Homo sapiens: one gene and its partners. The protein of the gene in region 5 interacts with the protein of the main gene of each other region in a pairwise test. Each region holds a gene or a part of one and is shown on either strand. Other genes may lie near its edges. The genes, in order: SUOX, EXOSC1, IQUB, TSC22D2, ZNF143 and ZNF438.

The links.
Region 1: the proteins of ZNF143 (region 5) and SUOX interact in binary tests that used the Homo sapiens proteins (3 or more experiments, as listed by UniProt).
Region 2: the proteins of ZNF143 (region 5) and EXOSC1 interact in binary tests that used the Homo sapiens proteins (3 or more experiments, as listed by UniProt).
Region 3: the proteins of ZNF143 (region 5) and IQUB interact in binary tests that used the Homo sapiens proteins (3 or more experiments, as listed by UniProt).
Region 4: the proteins of ZNF143 (region 5) and TSC22D2 interact in a two-hybrid assay, tested with the Homo sapiens proteins (one study listed by BioGRID).
Region 6: the proteins of ZNF143 (region 5) and ZNF438 interact in binary tests that used the Homo sapiens proteins (3 or more experiments, as listed by UniProt).

Annotation. Positions count from the first base shown.
Region 1 is NC_000012.12:56,000,276-56,003,429, reverse strand, and holds part of SUOX (sulfite oxidase, mitochondrial), read right to left. Parts: intron 1,219-3,154; 5' UTR 1,209-1,218; coding exon 1,159-1,208; intron 888-1,158; coding exon 710-887; intron 1-709. UniProt on the Homo sapiens protein: Catalyzes the oxidation of sulfite to sulfate, the terminal reaction in the oxidative degradation of sulfur-containing amino acids.
Region 2 is NC_000010.11:97,435,673-97,439,600, reverse strand, and holds the end of EXOSC1 (exosome complex component CSL4), read left to right. Parts: intron 1-897; coding exon 898-931; coding exon of another isoform or gene 932-938; intron 939-1,850; coding exon 1,851-1,901; intron 1,902-2,325; coding exon 2,326-2,410; intron 2,411-3,049; coding exon 3,050-3,156; 3' UTR 3,157-3,692; downstream 3,693-3,928. UniProt on the Homo sapiens protein: Non-catalytic component of the RNA exosome complex which has 3'->5' exoribonuclease activity and participates in a multitude of cellular RNA processing and degradation events.
Region 3 is NC_000007.14:123,527,760-123,531,687, reverse strand, and holds part of IQUB (IQ motif and ubiquitin-like domain-containing protein), read left to right. Parts: intron 1-3,336; exon of another isoform or gene 3,337-3,443; intron 3,444-3,928. UniProt on the Homo sapiens protein: Adapter protein that anchors the radial spoke 1 (RS1) complex to the A microtubule of outer doublet microtubules in axonemes. The triple radial spokes (RS1, RS2 and RS3) are required to modulate beating of the sperm flagellum.
Region 4 is NC_000003.12:150,453,211-150,457,138, forward strand, and holds part of TSC22D2 (TSC22 domain family protein 2), read left to right. Parts: intron 1-3,865; coding exon 3,866-3,917; exon of another isoform or gene 3,918-3,922; intron 3,923-3,928. UniProt on the Homo sapiens protein: Reduces the level of nuclear PKM isoform M2 which results in repression of cyclin CCND1 transcription and reduced cell growth.
Region 5 is NC_000011.10:9,470,747-9,474,674, forward strand, and holds part of ZNF143 (zinc finger protein 143), read left to right. Parts: intron 1-555; 5' UTR 556-559; coding exon of another isoform or gene 560-562; coding exon 563-674; intron 675-1,929; exon of another isoform or gene 1,930-1,930; coding exon 1,931-2,023; intron 2,024-3,030; exon of another isoform or gene 3,031-3,103; intron 3,104-3,194; coding exon 3,195-3,278; intron 3,279-3,803; coding exon 3,804-3,887; intron 3,888-3,928. UniProt on the Homo sapiens protein: Transcriptional activator. Activates the gene for selenocysteine tRNA (tRNAsec). Binds to the SPH motif of small nuclear RNA (snRNA) gene promoters. Participates in efficient U6 RNA polymerase III transcription via its interaction with CHD8.
Region 6 is NC_000010.11:30,846,597-30,850,524, reverse strand, and holds part of ZNF438 (zinc finger protein 438), read left to right. Parts: intron 1-157; coding exon 158-1,994; intron 1,995-3,928. UniProt on the Homo sapiens protein: Isoform 1 acts as a transcriptional repressor.

The DNA of each region.
Region 1 (3,154 bases), on a different chromosome or scaffold from region 5:
ATTAGCTGGGCATGGTGGTGCATGCCTGTAATCCCAGCTACTTGGGAGGCTGAGGCAGGAGAATCACTTGAACCCGGGAGGTGGAGGTTGTGGTGAGCTGAGATCATGCCATTGCACTCCAGCCTGGGCAACAAGAGTGAAACTCCATCTCAAAAAAAAAAAAAAGAAAAAATGAAGAAGAATAAGAAGAAATCACTTGAGCTCACCCTGACCCAACCCACGGTGTTGGCCACTGGGAAGCGAAGGTAGCAGATTAGCAGATTTCATCTCCACTGTGCATGAAGACTGCGTCACTGTGAACTCTGTGGTAACTACAAGAACATGGGTCACAGCCTGGGTTGCCTGTGGAGTTTACTAGGACTGATTCCTTTATTCTGACAATTTTTTTTTTTTTTTTGAGATGGAGTCTCACTCTGTCACCCAGGCTGGAGAGCAGTGGCCTGATCTTGATCTTGGCTCACTGCAGACTTAGCCTCCTGGGTTTAAGTGATTCTTGTGTCTCAGCCTCTCAAGTAGCTGAGATTACAGGTATGTACCACCACACCTGGCTAATTTTTACTAGAGATGGGGTTTTGCCATGTTGCCCAGGCTGGTCTCAAACTCCTAACCTCAAGTGACCCACCCACCTTGGCCTCCTATAGTGCTGGGATAACAGGCGTGAGCCACTGCACCCAGTCTGTTCTGACAATGAAGCACTTTCCCTACTTACCCTACACCGATGGTCCTGATAGGCCAACACTGCACCGAGACCTAATAGGGTCCCCATGACTCTCCATCCCTGGGTGCTGGAGTTATCACCAGAGAAGGTGAGGCTGGGGCGCTGGGGCTGAAATGAATCATTTGTGGAGCAGGCCTGAATGCAGATCCTTGAGGGGATTGACTTGAGTCTGGAAGAGAGGTCGGTCTTAGTAGCACGTATGGTCATGTGAAAGGGCTAGTGAAGGCTTGGGGTCTACTTCTTTCTCCCTGGTTGGCCATTGGTTCCTTAAGTTGGAACTTAGTTTCTCCAGGGATAGGTGGGAAAAGTGGGATCTGGCTTTCTCTGTCCTCCCTGGACACACTCTCTCAACTGTCTTATTTGCAAGGTATGACATTGTAAAAGACACTAAGGGTGGCAGATAGGGGCTAGGAGGCAAGTCCTGGGATGGGCTGGCCTACCTGCAGGCCTGTTGGAGCCTGAGGACCACAGCTCTGTGCAGCAGCAGCATTGTAGCAGACCTGTAGAAGGAAGATTCTGGGATCAAGATAGGGAGACCCTGGGAGGGGATATTAGGGAGGCCTAAGGGAATGGGTGAGAGGAAGACACAGAGAAGGTCAGCAAGGAGCTTTCTGGGCAAGTGAGGAGTCTTGAGAGTGGGAGTCCAAATGGGCCCTTAGAGAAAACTTGGAGCACTTCAGAGACAGACTGTGCTGACAGGATGGCAGGTAATGCGGGTGGGGAATGGGGTAGGAGGGATGGGTGCTTCTAGAATCAGAATCACCTTTCTCCCATCTTCCATTCTGAACTTTGTCCACCATAGAGAACGATGCCTGGGGCGAAGGGCCTAAAGGACCGAAACCAAATGTCTACTGGCCAGATTATTATTTCTGAAGTCAGCAGAGGACAACTGTGGGTCAGACTGACTTAAACAGGGATAAAAAAGTGAAAAAAAAGTAGTGACAGCCTAAATGGGTGAAGAAGCCCAGATTCTGGGGGCAAAATGCCTTGGGTTTGTGAAACTGGATCTCTTGTTATTCATTAACCAGCCCGATTTCCTGAGCAAGATTCCAAGCCGTTCTGAACTTGCTTCCTCATCTCTGAAATGACATCTGCCTAGCAGAGCTAACATGAAGAGCCAACAAGTACAGTAGTACCCCCTTATCCACTGGGGATATGTTCTACGACCCCCAGTAGATGTTTGAAACCACAGATTGCACCAAACCCTATATTACTGTTTTTTCCCCCATACATACATACCTCTTATAGTTTAATTACTAAATTACCCACAGTAAGAGATTAACAACAATGCCCGGCGCAGTGGCTCACGTCTGTAATCCCAGCACTTTGGGAGGCTGAGGCGGGCAAATCACCTGAGGTCAGGAGTTTGAGACCAGCCTGGCCAAAATGGGGAAAACCTGTCTCTACAAAAATTCAAAAATAAGCCAGGCATGGTGACACGTGCCTGTAACCCCAGCTACTCGGGAGGCTGAGGCAGGAGAATCACCTGAACCTGGGAGGTGGAGGTTGCAGTGAGCTGAGATCACGCCACTGCTCTCCAGTCTGGGCAACAGAGAGAGACTCCATCTCAAAAAAAAAAAAAAAAAAAAAAAAGAGAGATTAACAACAATAACAAAATAGAAAAATTAGCCCGGCGCAGTGGCTTACGCCTGTAATCCCAGCACTTTGGGAGGCTGAGACGGGCAGATCACGATGTCAGGAGATCGAAACCATCCTGGCTAACGCGGCGAAACCTCATCTCTACTAAAAATAGAAAAAAAAAAATTAGCCGGGCTTGGCGGCGGGCGCCTGTAGTCCCTGCTACTCCGGAGACAGGAGAATGGCGTGAACCCAGGAGGCGGAGGTTGCAGTGAGCCGAGATCGCGCCACTGCACTCCAGCCTGGGCGACAGAGTGAGACTCCGTCTCAAACGTCTCAAAAAAAAAACAAAGAAAAAGAAAAAAATTATAACATTATACTGTAATAAAAGAGCTGGGTGTGGTGGCTCACCCTTATAATCCTAGTGAGAAGTGACATTGTGCTGGCAGTCCTCACAGCCCTTGCTCACTCTCGGTGCCTCCTCTGCCTGGGCTCCCACTTTGGCGGCACTTGAGGAGCCCTTCAGCTCGCCGCTGCACTGTGGGAGCCCCTTTCTGGGCTGGCCAAGGCCAGAGTCGGCTCCCTCAGCTTGCAGGGAGGTGTGGAGGGAGAGGTGCGAGCGGGAACCGGGGCTGAGCGCGGAGCTTGCGGGCCAGCTGGAGTTCCGGGTGGGCGTGGGCTTGGCAGGCCCCGCACACGGAGCAGCCGGCTGGCCCTGCCGGCCCCGGGCAATGAGGGGCTTACCACCTGGGCCAGCAGCTGCGGAGGGTGTACTGGGTCCCCCAGCAGTGCCGGCCCACCAGCGCTGCGCTCGATTTCTCGCCGGGCCTTAGCTGCCTCCCCGCGGGGCAGGGCTCG
Region 2 (3,928 bases), on a different chromosome or scaffold from region 5:
TATAGAATCAGCGGGAGCCCTGAGTTTGTTTCCCTGCAATTCGATGGTCCCATCTGGGGGTGATGGGAGACAGTGACAGATCATCAGGCATTAGATTCTCATAAGGAGTGGGCAGCCTAGCTCCCTCATATGTGCAGTTCACAATAGGGTTCATACTTCTATGAGAATCTAATGCCCACTTCGATCTGACAGGAGGCGGAGCTCAGGCAGTAATGTATGCGATTGGGAAGCAGCTGTAAATACAGATGAAGCTTGCCTGCCACTCACTTCCTTCTATGCAGCCCGGTTCCTCACAGGCCACCAGAAGTTGGGGGCCCTTGCTATAGTGCTTCTGTTCAAGCCCTGAGGCAACGAAATTCCTTATCCTTTCTTGCCAAATCCGATCTGCCTTTATCTAATCAGAGGTATTGATACTGCCTCTCCATGTGGTCTGAGGATGCTTCTCCACCCTGCTCCTCTGGGTAGCAGCTGTGTCCCATTTACAACTTGTTCTGTCTGTTCTTGTAGCTCTTTATTTACTAGGAATCTACAGAATAATTCTTTCTCACAGGCTGGGCAAGGTGACTCATGCCTGTAATCCCAGCACTTTGGGAAGCTGAGGCGGGTGGATCACCTGAGGTCAGGAGTTCAAGACCAGCCTGGCCAACATGGTGAAACCCCATCTCTACTAAAAATACAAAAAACTAGCTGGGCATGGCGGACGTGCCTGTAATTCCAGCTGCTTGAGAGGCTGAGGCACGAGAATTGCTTGAACCCAGGAGGCGGAGGTTGCAGTGAGCAAAATTGCGCCACTGTACTCCAGCCTGGGTGACAGAGGGAGACTCTGTCTCAAAAAAAAAAAAAAAAAAAATTCTTTCTCACAGGTAATTAATCTTTCTGTTAATTCTTTTTTTATAGCAAGGAAGATGTCCGAGCAACTGAAAAAGACAAGGTTGTTGGTTGGTTCTTTTTTTTTAATGGCTTTACGTATCTCAATCCCTTAAAAGTATTATCTCAGGCCAGGCATGGTCACACACACCCGTAATCCCAGTACTTTGGGAGGCTGAGGCGGGAGGATCACTTGAGTCCAGGACTTCAAGACCAGCCCTGGCAACATAGCGAGACCCTGTCTCTACAAAAATTTTAAAAATTCAAAAATTGGCCAGGCATGGTAGCTCATGCCTGTAGTCCCAGCTGCTTGAGAGGATGTGGCTGGAGGATTGCTTGAGCCCAGGAGTTTGAGGTTAAGTGGTGGCACGCACCTGTAGTCCTAGCTACTTGGGAGGCTGAGGCAGGAGGATCCCTTGGTCCAGCAGTCCAAGGCTGCAGTGAGCTACCATTGCATCACTGCACTCCAGCCTGGGTGACACAGTGGGATCCCACCTCTTAAAAAAAAAGAAAAAAGGGCCGGGTGCAGTGGATCACACCTGTAATCCCAGCTCTTTGGGAGGCCAAGGTGGGCGGATCACAAGGTCAGGAGTTCAAGACCAGCCTGACCAACATGGTGAAACCCCGTCTCTACTAAAAATATAAAAACTAGCCTGTGTCGTGCCATGCACCTATAATCCCAGCTACTCAGGAGGCTGAGGCAGGAGAATCGCTTGAACCCGGGAGGCAGAGGTTGCAGTGAGCCGAGATCGCACCACTGCACTCCAGTGTGGGCGACAGAGCGAGACTCCATCTCAAAAAAAAAAAATTTTCATTTGTATGATAATACTGTAGAAGCAATTAAAAGTTCTTGACTTGACATGAGTAATGATGATTTCTACCCTCCAGGATTAGAAAGTAGATTGGCTTTACCAGAAGCGTTCACAGTTTCATATAGACCCAGTCTAGAGCTTTCACTTAACATTCCTGTTCTTTCTTTACAGGTTGAAATTTATAAGAGTTTCCGCCCAGGTGACATTGTCTTGGCCAAAGTGGTATCCTTTATTCCCAGCAGACTTCTGGTCCTTTGTCAAAAGAAGAGAAGGAGGCCGGGTGTGGTGGCTCATGCCTGTAATCCCAGCACTTTCGGAGGCCAGGGCGGGTGGATCACCTGAGGTCAGGAGTTCGAGACCAGCCTGGACAACATGGTGAAACCCTGTCTCTACTAAAAATACAAAAATTAGCTGGGCGTGGTGGCACATGCCTGTAATCCCAGCTATTCGGGAAGCTGAGGCAGGAGAACCGCTTGAACCTGTGAGGCAGAGGTTGTGAACTGATATCACGCCACCGCACTCCAGCCTGGTTAACGGAGCAAGACTCCATCTCAGAAAAAAAAAAAGGTAGAAAAACAACTCAGGTGGCTAAGGTGGGGGAAGACTTCTAACTCCTCATTTTCCTTCACCGGTGTTATGTGACTAGATCTCCTTAGGTGATGCACAGTCCAACTACCTGCTAACCACCGCCGAGAACGAGCTGGGAGTGGTGGTAGCCCACAGTGAGTCAGGTGAGATGGCCTTGTTTCCACATCCTTACTTTCCCTGGATCTATGGTTTGGGATAAATCCATTGTTTTTCCTGGTTTCCCTTATCTGGGAAGCAGTATGGCTATAGATATTTCCCTCTGAGATTAGAATGATTATTTTTTTCTTTTTTGCTTGGTGCTGGTGGTGGTGGTTGTTTGAGACAGGGTCTCACTTTGTCGAGGAGGCTGGAGTGCAGTGGTGCCATCTCCACTCACCACAGCCTCCACCTCCTTGGTTCAAGCAATTCTTGTCACCCAAGTAGCTGGGATTACAGACACACGCCACCACACCTAGCTAATTTTTGTATTTTTAGTAGAGACAGGGTTTCGCCATGTTGGCCAGGCTGGTCTCAAACTCCTGGCCTCAAATGATCTGCCCGCCTTGGCCTCCCAAAGTGCTGGGATTACAGGTGTGAGCCACCACGCCCAGCCTGATTCTCCTTATATAAATCCAAGGAAACGGGACTCACTTCATAAGTCAGTAGAATGAACAAAGTTTTTTCTTTATGAGTTGAGGTTCAGTAGGAAGCTTGGTGGCACTTCAGCTTCATACCCAGCATAAAAGAGGAGTCGCAGGCAAATCTTTGGGGTCTGGGCTCCACCACCAGCTTTTCCCTTCCAGGTATCCAGATGGTTCCCATCAGCTGGTGTGAGATGCAGTGCCCTAAGACCCACACTAAAGAATTCCGGAAAGTAGCCCGAGTACAACCCGAATTCTTGCAGACCTAAGAAGCCACTTTTTACCCTATGGAAGGGGGTAAGCTGTTCCTGAGTATAACACCAAGATGCTGCTGTCTTTATTCAAACACCTGGCGTCGGCCAACAGCCACTTCCAGAAAAATCTTCCAGTTTACGCTGTAGATGGAACATGTTTCTGTGAACCTATCAGTGGATTTCATTCTCTTGAGTAATAAATCTTATCTTTTCAAGGCACCAACAAACAAAACTGTGATATTGGAAATAGCCTATCCCTCCTGACAGTCCTTATAAATACATATTTTTTGCTATGATAAAACTTTTTTACTAAAAGGATGTTATAGAGTCTGTTGTCTTAAGCAGAGAAAGACATCTAAATGGTGTCAGGACATTTCAGTACTTCTGCTTATTGAGTACTTACTGTGCTAGGCACTGAGTCAGGTGCTTTACATACGTCCCCTTCATTTAGGTACATTGTGATTTAATGAAAATTTGAGGACACGTGGTGATACAGATAGCATGTGAGGCAGGCATGGTGGCTCATGTTTGTAAATCCCAGCACTTTGGGAGGCCGAGTTGGGTTGAAGTCAGGAGTTTGAGACCAGCCTGGCCAACATGGTGAAACCCCATCTCTACTAAAAATACAAAAATTAGCCGGGCGTGGTGGCACATGCCTGTAATCCCAACTACTCAGGAAGCTGAGGCAGGAAGATCGCTTGAACCCTGGAGGCAGAGGTTGTAGTGAACCGAGATTGCACCACTGCACTCCAGCCTGGACAACAGAGCGAGACTCTGTCTCAAAATA
Region 3 (3,928 bases), on a different chromosome or scaffold from region 5:
TTATCATTAATTTGAAATTTATCAAAATGAGAATATACAGTACCTGACGGTCAGTGGAGTTTGATCTTAATTTGATTTGAAAATTATGATCAGGAAAATAAATAACCTGAATATATGCTTAATAATATAAGACTTTGAGTTTGCAAAACAGAAATCCTGACTTGACTAAAATACACTTTTCATTTGACGGAGACCTTTAGTTAAGGAAAGATTAGTTTTAGCATTCAACATAACTAAATACCCAGCATTATGTTTTACGGTTTTTTTCAACAATGATTTATGTGTCGTGTTTGGTGTTGCCTCCAAGCAGTACCTAGGATAGCTGATGCTTTTACTTTGAGTCTTTTTCTTTAGTTGGAACATTAATTGCAAGCTTTTGGTTGGTAATCATTTTTTATGGGATGTATTTACTATATGGTCCTCACGGAGACACATTGTTATCTGGAGAACCACAGTTTGGAAAATACATTTCTCTTTATTATAAAGTTTTTTGTTTTATATATATAATGCCACAGTGTGATAGGATACAAAGACTATGCATTAGGGCTTTGGAGTCTTAATTGTTCTTTGTGTTTTTCTTTTTTTCCAATTTGATTATGGATCCGAACCTAATGCACTCTGTGATCTTAAGCAAGTTTCTTGACAGTTCCAGTTTTCCTATCTACAGAGACAAGAAGATCTACCTCAGAGTCATTGTAAGGATTAAATAAATTTGTAAAGCTCTCAAAGAGCAGCCTAATCCCAGCATTTTGGGTGGCCGAGGCGGGCGGAGCACCTGAGGTCAGGAGTTTGAGACCAGCCTGGCCAACATGGTGAAACCCCGTCTCTGCTAAAAATACAAAAATTGGCCAGGCATGGTGGGGGGTGCCTATAATCTGAGCTACTGGGGAGGCTGAGGCAGGAGAATTGCTTGAATCTGGGAGGTGGAGTTTGCAGTAAGCCAAGATCGCGCCACTTCACTCCAGCCTGGGCAAAAAGAGTGAAACTCCATCTCAAAAAAAAAAAAAAAAAAAAATCAAAGAGCAAAAAGGTAAAAAGTTTGTGCAGAGTAAAAAATGGGTAGAAATGGATTACAGGGAAGCTTATAGTGAGAACAAACCATAAATAAAATTGACATTGTGAACACCAGCCTTAGATTTTTTTTCCCTGAAAATTAAAAAGTGCTTTTTTAAATTTTTTTATTTTTTGAGTTGGAGGGTTTTTTGGTGTTGTTGTTGTTGTTTGTTGTTGTTTTGTTTTTGGTTTTTTGTTTTTTTTCAGAGTCTCCCTCTGTCGCCAGGCTGGAGTGCAGTGGCGCTATCTCAGCTCACTGCAACCTCCGCCTTCCAGGTTGAAGCGATTCTCCTGCCTCAGCTTCCCGAGTAGCTGGGACTACAGGTGCCTGCCACCATGCCCGGCTAATTTTTTGTATTTTAGTAGAGACGGGGTTTCACCATGTTGGCCGGGATGGTCTCGATCAGGCGTGAGCCACTGTACCGGTTGAGATGGAGTCTTGCTCTGTTGCCCAGGCTGGAATGCAGTGGCATGATCTCATCTCATTGCAACCTCTGCCTTCCAGGTTCAAGTGATCCGTGTTTCAGCCTCCCCAATAGCTGCGATTGCAGGCTCCTGCCACCACTCCCAGCTGATTTTTGTATTTTGTTTTGTTTTCTTTTTGAGATGGAGTCTGGCTCTGTCGCCAGGCTGGAGTGCAGTGGTGCAATCTTGGCTCACTGCAACCTCCAACTCCCTGGTTCAAGCAATTCTCCTGCCTCAGCCTCCCGAGTAGCTGGGATTACAGGCACATGCCACCACGCCCAGCTAATTTTTGTATTTTTGGTAGACACAGGGTTTTATCATGTTGGCCAGGATGGTCTTGATCTCCTGACCTTGTGATCCGTCTGCTCAGCCTCCCAAAGTGCTGGGATTACAGGCATGAGCCACCGCACCTAGCCTGTTTTTTTTTTTTTTTTTTTTTTTTTTTAAGTAGAGACAGGGTTTCACTATGTTGGCCAGGCTGGCCTCCCAACTCCTGACCTCAAGATCCGCCCACTTTAGACTCCCAAAGCGCTGGGATTACAGGCATGAGCCACTGCATCCAGCAGAAAATTTAAAAATTAATATAGATTATTGTTTATATATAATTGCATGCATTTAAAAGTTCGATCTTTAACATAACTTTAAAAACTGATTCTTAAAAAATAAATTATCCTATTAAAACAAAAAAAAAACACTAGAGACAGCTTAAATGTCCATCAATGAACAACAGTTGACTACCATGTGGCTTAGCCTTGCAAAGAAGTTACTGTGAAGTTGTTGAAAAGAATGCGGCAGAATCGTATTTTACATAAAAATAAATGTTAAGCACGTATTATAAAAAGTCATAAAATAGTATTAAAGTTTAAAAATAAACAGAAATATAGTTTATGAAAGACATTGATATGATCATAAACAAATTTAAATGTATATATATTATATAATTGTAGCTTTATAGACAATTCCTGGAAAGATAAACTGCCTAACAATGAGAAATAAAATTAGCATGTCTGAAATACTTTTACTTCTTATTTTATCCCCTTCTATTCTGTTAGTTTTTTTTCTAGTAAGCACATATTACTCTCTTAAAAACAACAACAAAATGAATGATAACAATAATGAAAAAATGATTTTGAAAAGTCTTTTCCAACTGTAGCTTTCCAAACTGGGTTGGAAGATCACATTTTACATTTCACACTTTTAATATGTGTACTTTGTTATTTACATTTAATATTTGCTGCAGTGAGAGTTTACACATATGTATGCAAGTAGAGCATATTAATATGTACATATGAGGGGGTATTAGGAACCAATAAAATTAGCTCCTTGTTCTAGATGGGTGAAAAAAAATCTGCTGAATATTTTTTACTCTATTTTAAATCATAGTCATGTTTGTCACTTAAGAATAAAAGACATTCTCTGATAATATATCTGATGGCAAAATTGTTAGTTAAATTCTGGATCTGACTACCACTAACCTACCATGAGGCATTCCTGGGTCTTAGCTTTTTCATCTGCAGGGAGATCAGTTTCTAGACTTTTTCTTCATCACCAGGACCCCTTTTCTGTTCTCCTCCCAATCCCCCATGGACTCCTACACTGAGATACAGCACAGTTAAGTGGTTAAGGGCATGGGTTCTGGATCCAGACTGCCTGGATTTGGATCCCAGATATACTGCCTACTAGCTCTGGGTTCTTGAAAATATTGCTTAACCTCTCTGTGCTAATTTCTTTATCTGTAAAATGGGCATAATGATATCATCTGTGAGAATTAAATAATTTGGTATAAGTATTTGCTAATATTATGCTTTATTTTAAAAGTATTTTTTTCGGGGAGGAGTCAAGATGTCCAAATAGGAATAGCTCTGGTCAACAGCTCCCAGCGTGAGCGACGCAGAAGACGGGTGATTTCTGCATTTCCATCTGAGGTACAGGGTTCATCTCACTAGGGAGTGCCAGACAGTGGGCGCAGGTCAGTGGGTGCGTGCACCGTGCGCGAGCCGAAGCAGGGCGAGGCATTGCCTCACTTGGGAAGCGCAAGGGGTCAGGGAGTTCCCTTTCCTAGTCAAAGAAAGTGGTGACAGACGGCACCTGGAAAATCGGGTCACTCCCACCCGAATACTGCGCTTTTCCGACAGGCTTAAAAAACGGCGGACCAGGAGATTATATCCCCCACCCGGCTCGGAGGGTCCTACGCCCACGGAGTCTCGCTAATTGCTAGCACAGCAGTCTGAGATCAAACTGCAAGGCGGCAGCGAGGCTGGGGGAGGGGCGCCCGCCATTGCTCAGGCTTGCTTAGGTAAACAAAGCAGCTGGGAAGCTCCAACTGGGTGGAGCCCACCACAGCTCAAGGAGGCCTGCCTGCCTCTGTAGGCTCCACCTCTGGGGGCAGGGCACAGACAAACAAAAAGAC
Region 4 (3,928 bases), on a different chromosome or scaffold from region 5:
AAATATAATGTGCTGAATATAATAATTAAAAAGAAAACAAGGTATATAGTATTATAACATTAGGTGAAGGAAGGAAATTATTGATTCTGCTTCAGTTGATCTTTCTCATTTTAAAAGAGTCAAATCTCACTATGATAACTTTGAACATAATAGAAAACATCTTGATACCCTCATTGAAACAGTATTTTTAAACCATATTCTGGGATCTTGAAATAAAATAGTCTCTTATTTGCTTAAGACTACCATATTGGTATCTCCATCGTAAATATGGCTAAAGCAGTGGTTCTCATACTTTAGTTTCTATCTGAATCGCCTAGAGAGTTTGTTAAAATAGATTACGGGGCCCCGCCCCAAGAGTAAATCTGGGGTGGGTCCAAATATTTACATTTCTAACAAGGTCTTGGTGGGTCCAAATATTTACATTTCTGACAAGTTTCCAGGTGATGCTGATGATTCTGGTTCAGGGACTACACTTTGAGAACTGATTTATCTGAACTCAAAAAATTTTAATGCCTTCCTCATATGAACCATTAATTGTTTCAAATCTATCATATCTAATTACTATCAGTATGCATTGAGTTACTATGTGCTAAGCACTGAATTCACTTATTCACAAAGATGAAGAAGTTATGGAACCTTTCTCAAAGAGCTCAATCTAATAGGATCAACAGTGGTAGTATTACAATACTCAAAGTAATCACTGTCTGTATTGAGTGCTCAGTGTGCCAAGTACTATGCATTATGTAAACTCATTTAATCCTCACAATTGGCATATAATCCTTATTTTAAATGAAAAAACTGAGGTCTAGAAAGGTTAAATAATTTCCCAGAATTCATATAGTGAGTATATGGAGGAGCCAGAATTTGCTATTCTGCCTTTTTGCACTATAAAAAGTTTGCGAAGATTGGTAGACCCCAGAAAGGATGGAGTAATTGGCTCTACCTTAGAAAATCAAACAGCATCACAGAAGAGATGGCACTGGAGCATCTTAAGGGACAGGTCTAAGATAGCCAGATGAATTGGAACTGTGAGCATTTCCAGCTGAGGGAGCAGTTTCTGCAAAGCCAAGGAAACCCGAGAGAACATATGTTCCACAGACTACAAATAGTTGTATAAGACCATAACACAATAGGCAGATGGAGTATAAGAGGAAAACAGACTGTATAAGGCAGAGGTCAAAGTCATAAAGAATTTTATATGCCAGGCTAAAAAGTTTTAAAAATAGAATTAGGCTTCTTAATTTTTCCTCCTATAACTTTCATTTGTAAGCCAGCAGTTCTCAAAGCATAGTCAGACAGTAGATTCCACATCATCTGGGAACTTGTTAGAAATGCAGATTCCTGGTTCCATGCCTACTGAATCAGAAACTCTGAGTGGGGGAGCCCAGCAACCTGAGTTTTAACAAGACCTCCAGATGATTCTGGTGCATGCTAAAGTTTGAGACCCCTGCAGTAGGTTATAGAATTCTTGAATAATAGCCTTCAAGATAGTTAAAGGTCACTATAGTGGTAGTAATTATATTTGACACTGATTTATTCTATTAGAGTACAACACCTAACAGTTGAAATATTAACACCATTTAAGGGATACATCTTCATCATGATCTATTTATACCTTGCAAACCTGTTTCTTCTGTTGTCATAAAAGAGATCTTAGGACAAGAGTTTGTTAGGTCAGCATTCAAAGAATAGCATGCTAACTATTCTTCCTTAGCTATGGGAATCATTCTAAAACTCGCTGACTGATTTTAATTATCAAAAAAAAACCCCAGTAATTTTTGTTTTTTTTACTGCTTGTTAATACATAAAACTGATGTTGTAGTTAGTATTTAAGGTGTGCTATTTAAACCAAATGTGTTGAAGGAATCAAATGATTTAAGTCATGACATGACTTAAAAGTAATTCAATCTTTCCTTGTCATGTCAATAAAAATATAGAAAGTATAATCTGGGATTCCCAAGCAAACTAATTTAAATGCCTGTCACCGTCTTTTTTGCCAAAATGTGTTCAGTATTTGTGGTGAATATGTCTGCATGGTATCTGGCACTGAAGTATATACTAAAGCGTTATGGTTGACTTAGTGGTTCTGTAGTTTATAGTTACATATAGTCATACTTTGCACAGCTCACTAAAAGCATTTAAAGCCCAGCACATATAAAGTATTTGTTAATGATCCATAAATCCTTTCTAGATATTAGATATACAAAACCTCTTTTCATCTTAGAAATAGTAGCAGCAAGAAGTGAAGGTAGTATGCTGTAATTAATGTGGTTAATGCTCAAATAAACAAACGTAGTTTCCCATGTAATGATTCAAGATTTCAAGGATTTAGAAGTGGAAAGTCCATTGAGGCATTGACATCAACCCCTTGTTTTACAGATGGGGAAACTCAGATCCAGGGAAGTTAAATAGGTGATTTGCTGATGTCCCATAGGAAGTGAATAGCAGGATATCACAGGACAGGATATTTCTGAGCCTCAATCTGATACAACATTATGGGTCCACACCATCTAAAGTAAAGTAGTTTCCAGGTATTTTAGCACTAAAATCTTAGGTGGAGTATACTTTATGAAGAATATTTAGTAACATATAAAAAATTATCTTTTCGTATTGATACAATAAGCTACAGTATCAGATTTTTCTTTACAAGAGTAATTTTTAAAAACCTAATAACTGTTTTTAGAAATAAAATTCATTAAAAAACAATAAAAGGGTATAAATTCCAGCTATTCTTACTACTTAATACATGGTAGAATATAAACCACCAAAGAGGACAATTAGCCTTCTGTGTTATTATCATACAATTGCTAAGGTGATATTTGAACTTGGAATGTGCTTACAGGCTGGATAACTTTTCAGTTATTCCCAAGAAGAACTGATCTAAACCACACATACCTTATAGGTGATTTTTGCCAGCAAGTAACCTACAGTCAAATACATGTAGGTCTGCCAGAATGTTGTTTCTTTTTGTTTTTTTTTTTTTTGTTTTTTTTTGAGATGGAGTTTTGCTCTTGTTGCCCAGGCTGGATTGCAATGGCGTGATCTCGGCTCACTGCAGCCTCTGCCTCCTGGGTTCAAGTGATTCTCTTGCCTCAGCCTCCTGAGTAGCTGATTACAGGCACCCGCCCCAAGCCTGGCTAATTTTTTTTGTATTTTTAGTAGAGATGGGTTTTCACCACGTTGGCCAGGCTGATCTGGAACTCCTGACCTCAAGTGATCCACCTTCCTTGGCCTCCCAAAGTGCTGGGATTACAAGCGTGAGCCACCACGCCCGGCTGAATGTTGAGTTTCTTGTTAACCAATCCTACCCAAAGACTTTCTGAACCATTTTTAGAAGCCATTAAGTTTTTTTTAAAAAACTAGATGTTAAAGTATAAAACTTATACCAGAAAAGTCTTACTAAGAGGAGGGACTAGAAAAAAAAAAGTCAAGCCATCATCTGAATTTTACTACAATAAGTAATTATTGGAATTTCTACATGAAAGGCAATTAGAATGTATAGTTGGTTAATGTAGAAATTTAAGAGATACGGAGAAGACACTGCCCATTTAAAATGTATCCTTTTAAAACCACTGAACAGAGAAATTCTTAATACAATTGAGAGTTAGTTTTAAAGTAGCATACATGTATTACAGGCAAATTAGAAATGTTGGCACTACAAAGGACCTGTAGAAATCATCTATTTACTGAGACTTTCATTTTAGAAATGAGAGCTTTGAGTACTGAAATTGTCAGAACAGAATAAGCTATTTTAAATTACTGTATATTTGGTTTTAAGTGAAACACAAATGTCTTTTACATTCTTTTAAGAGTTGGAAGGGAGGTTAAATTTTTTAGAATAATAACATATTCTAATTTTTTCCAGTGCATCTGGGGGAGGTGTTGTAGCCATTGACAACAAAATAGAACAAGCAATGGTAAGTAAAAG
Region 5 (3,928 bases):
CATGAGCTAACTTTTCCCTTCAAAGGACACTGACCGCTGTGTCAAAAGAAGAGTGTAGGAGGCTAATGGAGAAGCAGGGAAATAAGTTAGGATGCTGTTATAGTAATGCAGGTGAGAGACTGGTTGTGGCTTAGATCAGGGAAGTACTGGTGAAGGTTGTGAGAGGTAGCCAGATTCGGGGTAGATTTCTGAAGATTAAGTCAACAAAATATGCTGACACATTGTAAGTGGGAATCCTCAGCAATGCTAAACCCAAAGGACTCTAATTATGGGAATTCTAGAGATCATATGAAACTGATGGGCACAATTCGTCAGTGTACTTCTAAGTTGCTAAGCGCACTGACAAATTGTGCCCATCAGTTTGAATTGTTGAATTATAAGAAGCATGCCTTGGACTTTGGGCTAATACTCTTACCCTACATATTGAGTGAAATTTCATCTTATTTCCAACACCATTACATCCTCAGCAGCTTTTTGTGGTTCATAAATATTCTTTGTAACTTTCATTTCACATGTATCATTCTTTGTTCCCAAGTGTCTTTATTTTTCTTCAAGGTAGAAGATGTTGTTAGCCCAAATAAATCGAGATTCTCAGGGAATGACAGAGTTTCCTGGAGGAGGGATGGAGGCGCAACATGTTACGCTGTGCTTGACAGAGGCAGTCACCGTGGCAGGTGAGCAGTTGTGTTTGAAGGGATGCGTTTGAAAATATCATTTATCTTAAAAGAAAAAAAATTTACAACTTCCTAGTTCCTGATTTAGCAGAAAACAATATAAACCTAGGTCTTTTTATGAGGTGTTTTGGTGTTTTTTTTTTTGAAACGGGACGGAGTTTTACTCTTGTCGCCCAGGCTGGAGTGCGATGGTCTGCTCTCGGCTCACTGCAACCTCTGCCTCCCAAGTCCAAGTGATTCTCCTGCCTCAGCCTCCCGAGTAGCTGGGATTACAGGCATGTGCCACCACGTCCGGCTAATTTTGTATTTTTAGTAGAGACGGGGTTTCACCACGTTGGCCAGGCTGGTCTCAAACTCCTGACCTCAGGTAATCAACCTGCTTCGGCCTCCCAAAGTGCTGGGATTACAGGCATGAGCCATTGCGCCCAGCCTCTATGTGTATTTTTTATCTTGGTGTGGGTACAGGAGGGCAGGGAATTTTTTTTTTCTTTTTCTTTTTCTTTTCTTTTCTTTTGTTTTTTTTTTTTGAGACAAGGTCTTGCTTTATCGCCCAGGCTGGAGTGCAGTGGTATGATCACGGCTCACTGTAGCCTCAGCCTTCTGGCTTAAGACATCCTGTCACCTCAGCCTCCCAAGTAGCTGAGACTACAGGCACCCACCAGCGTGCCCAGCTAATTATTTTATTTTTAGTAGAGACAGGGTTTCACCATGTTGCCCAGGCTGGTCTCAAACTCCTGGGCTCAAGCCATCCACCCACCTCAGCCTCCAAAAGTGCTGGGATTACAGGCATGAGCCATTGTTCCCAGCCTGTTTTTGGTAAGTGCTAAATCTCACTTTTTTTCTTTTTTTTGAGACGGAGTCTGGCTCTGTCGCCCAGGCTGGAGGGCAGTGGCACAATCTCGGCTCACTGCAACCTCTGCCTCCTGGGTTCAAGCGATTCTTCTGCCTCAGCCTCCCAAGTAGCTGGGACTACAAGGTGCATGCCACCGCGCCCGACTAATTTTTATATTTTTAGTAGAGACGGGGTTTCACCTCATTGGCCAGGCTGGTGTCGAACTTCTGACCTCATGATCCACTTGCCTTGGCCTCCCAAAGTGCCGTGATTACAGGCGTGAGCCACTGCACCCGGCCGCTAAATCTCATTTTGAGTCTGAGTTAAGCAGTTTACCTTTTTTCTGATCTTTATTTGAAAAAAAAATTAATCAGCATGTCCATATGCTAGCTGTCTAAAGAAAATATTGATTTTTTTGTAATAGATGGTGACAACTTAGAAAATATGGAAGGCGTAAGCTTGCAAGCAGTAACACTTGCAGATGGTTCTACTGCTTACATACAACACAATTCTAAAGGTATGTGCCTCACATATGGCTGATTGGTTAATACCAGTGATTTATAACCTGTGAGTTGGAGCACCTAGAAGCTATACCACCTTTCCTATGTCTCCTAAAGATGCTGTATTGCATATGATGATTTTAAGTCATTTCAGTTTAATTCTTTTTTTTTTTTTTTTTATAATTTGGAATAGTCCTTTGAGATATTTGGAAGATACCCTGGGATATCAAAATTAGTGGGAGAGAGGAGAGCAGGGAGTATGTCTTACTATTTTCTAGTAAGACCTTTCTTGCTTCTTTACCTTGGGTCATTATTTCGTATTTTTACCAAATACCTGTAAGAGTAAAGACATTTGGGGCCGGGCATGGTGGTTCACGCCTGTAATCCCAACGCTTTGGAAGGCCGAGGCGGGCAGATCACCTGAGGTCGGGAGTTCGAGACCAGCCTGACCAACATGGAGAAACCGTTTTCTGTAATAAAAATACAAAATTAGCTGGGCATGGTGGCGCATGCCTGTAATCCCAGCTACTCAGGAGGCTGAGGCAGGAGAGTCGCTTGAACCCGGGAGGCAGAGGTTGCAGTGAGCCGAGATCACGCCATTGCACTCCGGCCTGGGCAACTAGAGCAAAACTCTGTCTCAAAAAAAAAAAAAAAAGACATTTGGTTTTGCTTATCTGACATTGTCTCTGAATTAGTGTTTGCTTTGCTCCAGGAAACAGCCAAGTCCTCAAAAACTCTTTGTTTCTATGGAAACCTACTGAGCACATGCATACATAAACAGGGGTCTTATAGCCCTCAGGGATGAGAATGACAGATGATCTCACATACACTGACATAATCTGTCTGTCTTCCCAGCTTCAACTCCCCACTGGTCATGGTCACTGATTCTAAGTGACTCTGAAAGGTATAAAGCAGTCCAACTCATGTAGCCTGCTGTGATGAGCCACTCTTCCTCTTGACCTCATCTAATTGAAAATTGCAGGGGAGGAAGGATGGCTGAGGGAGGATTTTCTGCTTTCTGTAGGATCACTGGATGTGTTATTGAATTGCCTCAGAACATTGAGGGAAGAATCAAGATGAACACGAGCTTAAGTTGTGTATGTTTTTATAGTTGATATCATTTTGAAATTGTATAAAGTTTAAAATTTTTGTTTGTGCCAATTTATTGTCTTGAATCTTTTGTTATAGATGCAAAACTCATAGATGGCCAGGTCATTCAGTTGGAAGATGGTTCTGCGGCCTATGTTCAACATGTACCCATACCTAAAAGTAGTAAGTATTTAAGATAACAGCACGGGAAACCATTTTAATTCTCAGCTTTTAGTATTTGCTACCTGCAGCTCCCTCTTACTACCTAAACTTGGTCTTGTTCTCAAGTCCTCCTTCTGTAAAGGGAGATTATAGATGCCACAGAGTGGATCTTAACCAAGACTTTCTCGTAAAGATAATGGAAAAGAAGTTACTGGACTGCACTGTGGAGATAAATGAGTAACAGTCCTGAGTGAATGTTTCTGTTTTTTGAGCTGAATCTTACATGTCTCTCATTTTCTTCATTTTTCCCCTTCTTTCAACTCTCTTTAATACTGGTGTATATTTCTAAAACCAATATTCTAATGTCTTTTTACCTTTAAACACTGACGCAGGGAAGCTTTACTGAACTTACTTAAATGTTCAAAGACTCATGAAGCAAGTATAGATTGTTATAATGTGTTAATGGTTTATTGACTCTTGTTGCTAAGTGAGTTAATTGGAATGTGCTAGAAAACATGAGATCTAAATGTAAGCATTGTTCTTGAGCAGGGGACAGTTTGCGTCTAGAGGATGGTCAAGCAGTACAGTTAGAAGATGGTACCACAGCATTTATTCACCACACCTCCAAAGGTAAAATAACTTTGAAAGTATGAATAAAATAAGGGAGAAGT
Region 6 (3,928 bases), on a different chromosome or scaffold from region 5:
TCAAGCTGGTCTTGAGGGACACAAGATTTTGCCCAGAAGGCTTGGAGGTAGGTCAAGGAATCTGTTCTGGGCAGAGTAAATAAGATGCTTGTTGTTTGAAGTATCACTAACAGAACAGTTACATACAGTAACTCTTTATATTTTATTGTCATTGCAGGTGAATCAAACATCCCTTCTGGAACAATACAGAGTAGGAAAGGTTTGCAGAATAAGAGTCAGTTTAGGACCATTGCACCAAAAATTGTGCCCAAAGTCCTAACGTCCAGAATGCTGCCATGTCATTCACCATCACGCTCTGATCAGGTGAATCTGGGACCCTCCATCAACTCCAAGCTGCTGGGGATGTCCACCCAGAACTATGCCCTGATGCAGGTTGCTGGCCAGGAGGGGACATTTTCTCTTGTTGCTCTGCCACATGTTGCCTCAGCTCAGCCAATTCAGAAACCCAGAATGTCCCTACCTGAAAACCTGAAACTTCCTATTCCTAGATATCAACCCCCTAGAAATAGCAAAGCATCAAGAAAGAAACCCATCCTGATCTTTCCTAAGAGTGGCTGTAGCAAAGCTCCTGCCCAAACCCAAATGTGTCCTCAGATGTCCCCTTCCCCACCTCACCACCCTGAACTCCTGTACAAACCCAGTCCATTTGAGGAAGTACCATCACTAGAGCAAGCCCCAGCCAGCATTAGCACAGCTGCGCTGACCAATGGAAGTGACCATGGGGACTTGAGACCACCAGTGACCAACACCCATGGCAGTCTGAACCCTCCTGCTACCCCAGCATCATCCACACCAGAGGAGCCTGCCAAGCAGGACCTCACAGCTCTTTCAGGGAAAGCACACTTTGTAAGCAAGATAACATCTAGTAAACCTTCTGCTGTTGCCAGTGAAAAATTTAAAGAACAAGTTGATCTTGCAAAAACCATGACCAATTTATCACCAACCATTCTTGGCAATGCAGTTCAGTTGATCTCTTCAGTCCCCAAAGGGAAACTGCCAATCCCACCCTACTCAAGAATGAAGACAATGGAGGTTTACAAAATCAAATCAGATGCTAACATTGCAGGTTTTTCTTTACCAGGACCTAAGGCCGACTGTGATAAGATACCCTCCACCACAGAAGGCTTTAATGCAGCCACCAAGGTGGCAAGCAGGCTACCTGTTCCACAAGTGTCACAGCAGAGTGCCTGTGAAAGTGCCTTTTGTCCACCCACCAAACTTGATCTTAACCACAAAACAAAACTGAACAGTGGAGCAGCAAAGAGAAAAGGAAGAAAACGGAAGGTACCAGATGAAATTTTGGCATTTCAGGGAAAAAGGAGGAAATATATCATTAATAAGTGTAGAGATGGTAAAGAAAGAGTAAAAAATGATCCCCAAGAATTCAGAGACCAAAAGCTGGGGACCCTGAAAAAATACCGTAGCATTATGCCCAAACCTATCATGGTCATACCCACTTTGGCCTCCCTGGCTTCTCCAACTACACTACAGTCCCAGATGCTTGGGGGCCTAGGACAGGATGTTTTGTTAAATAATTCACTCACTCCTAAATATCTTGGCTGTAAGCAAGACAACAGCTCTTCCCCTAAGCCCAGCTCCGTGTTCAGAAATGGATTCTCTGGCATTAAGAAGCCTTGGCACAGATGTCACGTCTGCAACCACCACTTCCAGTTCAAACAGCACCTTCGAGACCACATGAATACACACACCAACAGACGCCCTTACAGTTGTCGGATTTGTCGCAAGTCCTATGTACGTCCTGGCAGCCTGAGCACACACATGAAACTTCATCATGGTGAGAACCGTCTGAAGAAACTCATGTGTTGTGAGTTTTGTGCAAAAGTGTTTGGCCACATCCGAGTCTATTTTGGCCATCTGAAAGAAGTGCATAGGGTTGTGATCAGCACTGAGCCTGCGCCCAGTGAACTGCAGCCAGGAGACATACCAAAGAACAGAGACATGAGTGTGCGAGGCATGGAGGGATCATTGGAGAGGTGAGTGCCAATGTAATGGAGACCTGGCAAGAGAGTCTGTTTTGATTTGGGGAAGAGGGGAAGATTTCATATTCAGAAAGGAGAGTTTATAAAACATCTCTAGGATTAAGATTTCATAAAGTAGCTATGTATACCTCCTAGATCTGTGAAGAATGATCTTGTTTCTCTCTGGTTTCTGATCATCCATACTTGGAATTACCCTAACCAATCTAGTAAAGTACTGTATATAGTTCCAGTGGTCTTTACAAGTAATTTCCCCCAAAATCACATCCACAGAATTTGCGTTATTTTAAACAGCATCATTTGCCCCAAAATGCGGCATGACCCATGGTTGGGGACTCAGAGTGGGTGGGTCTGTCATGTTGACCCTACCTTAAGGTGCCCAGACCCCACCCTCTTCATTTGCCCTGTTTTTCCCATCAGTTCGGGTTCACTCTTTCTGGTGTCATTCCTTTTTGCAAGCACTGCTTCCTGGTATTATTGCTATGGGATCCTTGGGGTGTCATTTCACCAGCCGGAAACCTCTGTGGCCAGTGGCGCCTTGGCCTGAGTTTTGCTCTGGCCCATTAGGCTCGTTCCACCCACTTGGAACCTAGCAGGCTGCACTCAGCTCATGCTACCGGCCTAGATCCCATGCCTGCCAAGGGCGAGCCAGGCACAGAGTGGTGAGGGATGTGTGAGTGAGCGTGGGGTCTGGCCACTGCGCATAGGCAGGCACGCCGGCTGCTGCTGCAGGCCAGGCAGCTCCAGGTGCCACCTCCTTGCAAGGCTGTGGCTGGACCAGGCACATCACAAGCAGCTTCCACGGTTGGCACCAGGAACATGATGTTGCCCAGAAGCTTGGAGACTAGGGAGTCACTGCCCTGGCTCAGGGGGCTCCCAGGACAGAGCTCCCCAAAGGGCCGCAGCTCTTCTCTTCACCTGCTGTGTGGCAAGCAAGAGGCGTGTTTCAGCCTGTTTGTGTTACAGCTCTCTTAGCCCCACCATTTGGCAGGTCTCAAGTTCTTGTCCTGCGTTCAGGAAGAATGAGGTACACAGAGAAGTAGAGGGTGAGCAAGATGAAGAGGAGCTTTATTGAGTGATAGAACAGCTCAGAGTTGAACTGCAGGGGGCAGTTCCTCTCTGCAGGCAGGTTTTCCCCGTCATCTCTTGTGCTCTCAGCAGAGAGGGTAGCTCCTCTCTGCCACTGGTCGTCCCATTGTCTCTTCAAGTCTGGCTAAGTCCGGGGCTTTTATGTGCCTCAGAGGAGAGGAAATGCGTGCAGTTGGTCCATGGGCAGTCATGGACAGACCCAGAAAAGCACCACAAGTTCCCACTCCAGTCCACATGACTGGCAACCTGGCCCCCAGGCTTCAGGGCTTCTCTGGCTTGAAGGTGGGGCTTCACCGGGGACCTCCCCTTTTCTGCCCAGGAGCTTCTTTGCTCCCTGCTTCTGTTTATGGCACCCAGGCTGTTCATGCTGAGGGGGCACCTGCAGGCTGGCACCGAGCTGTCCTGAGCACCCCTTCCTCAGCCTCCCTTCCATGCTTATTGGCACCCAAAGTCTGGAGCAGGCCAATGGGGTAGGAGGTGGGCATATCAGCACTGCCTCAAGCGTGTGCACACCCAACCAGGTTACAGCAGAGCCCAGGCTCAGCCCCAGCCTTGCTTTGAGATTGGAGCAGGTGCTGACAGCAGGGAGAAGCCAGGCAGCAGGAGCAGGTGCTTCTTGAGCCCGTGGGGGGAAAGGGGCCTTCCTGGACCCCTGAGAGTGCAGAGATGCCTGGATCTGCAGCCACAGCAGGGTAGCTACAGTGATGCCTGGGAGGGCAGGAGCGCTCCTGCCTGCTCCCAGCTTCCAAGAGCACAGGGGTGCCTGGGTCACAGCTGCAGCTTGGGCAGCTGCAGGCAGTTGTGCCTGGTAAGCTCCCACACCGTCAACTTGGAAAGGGCAG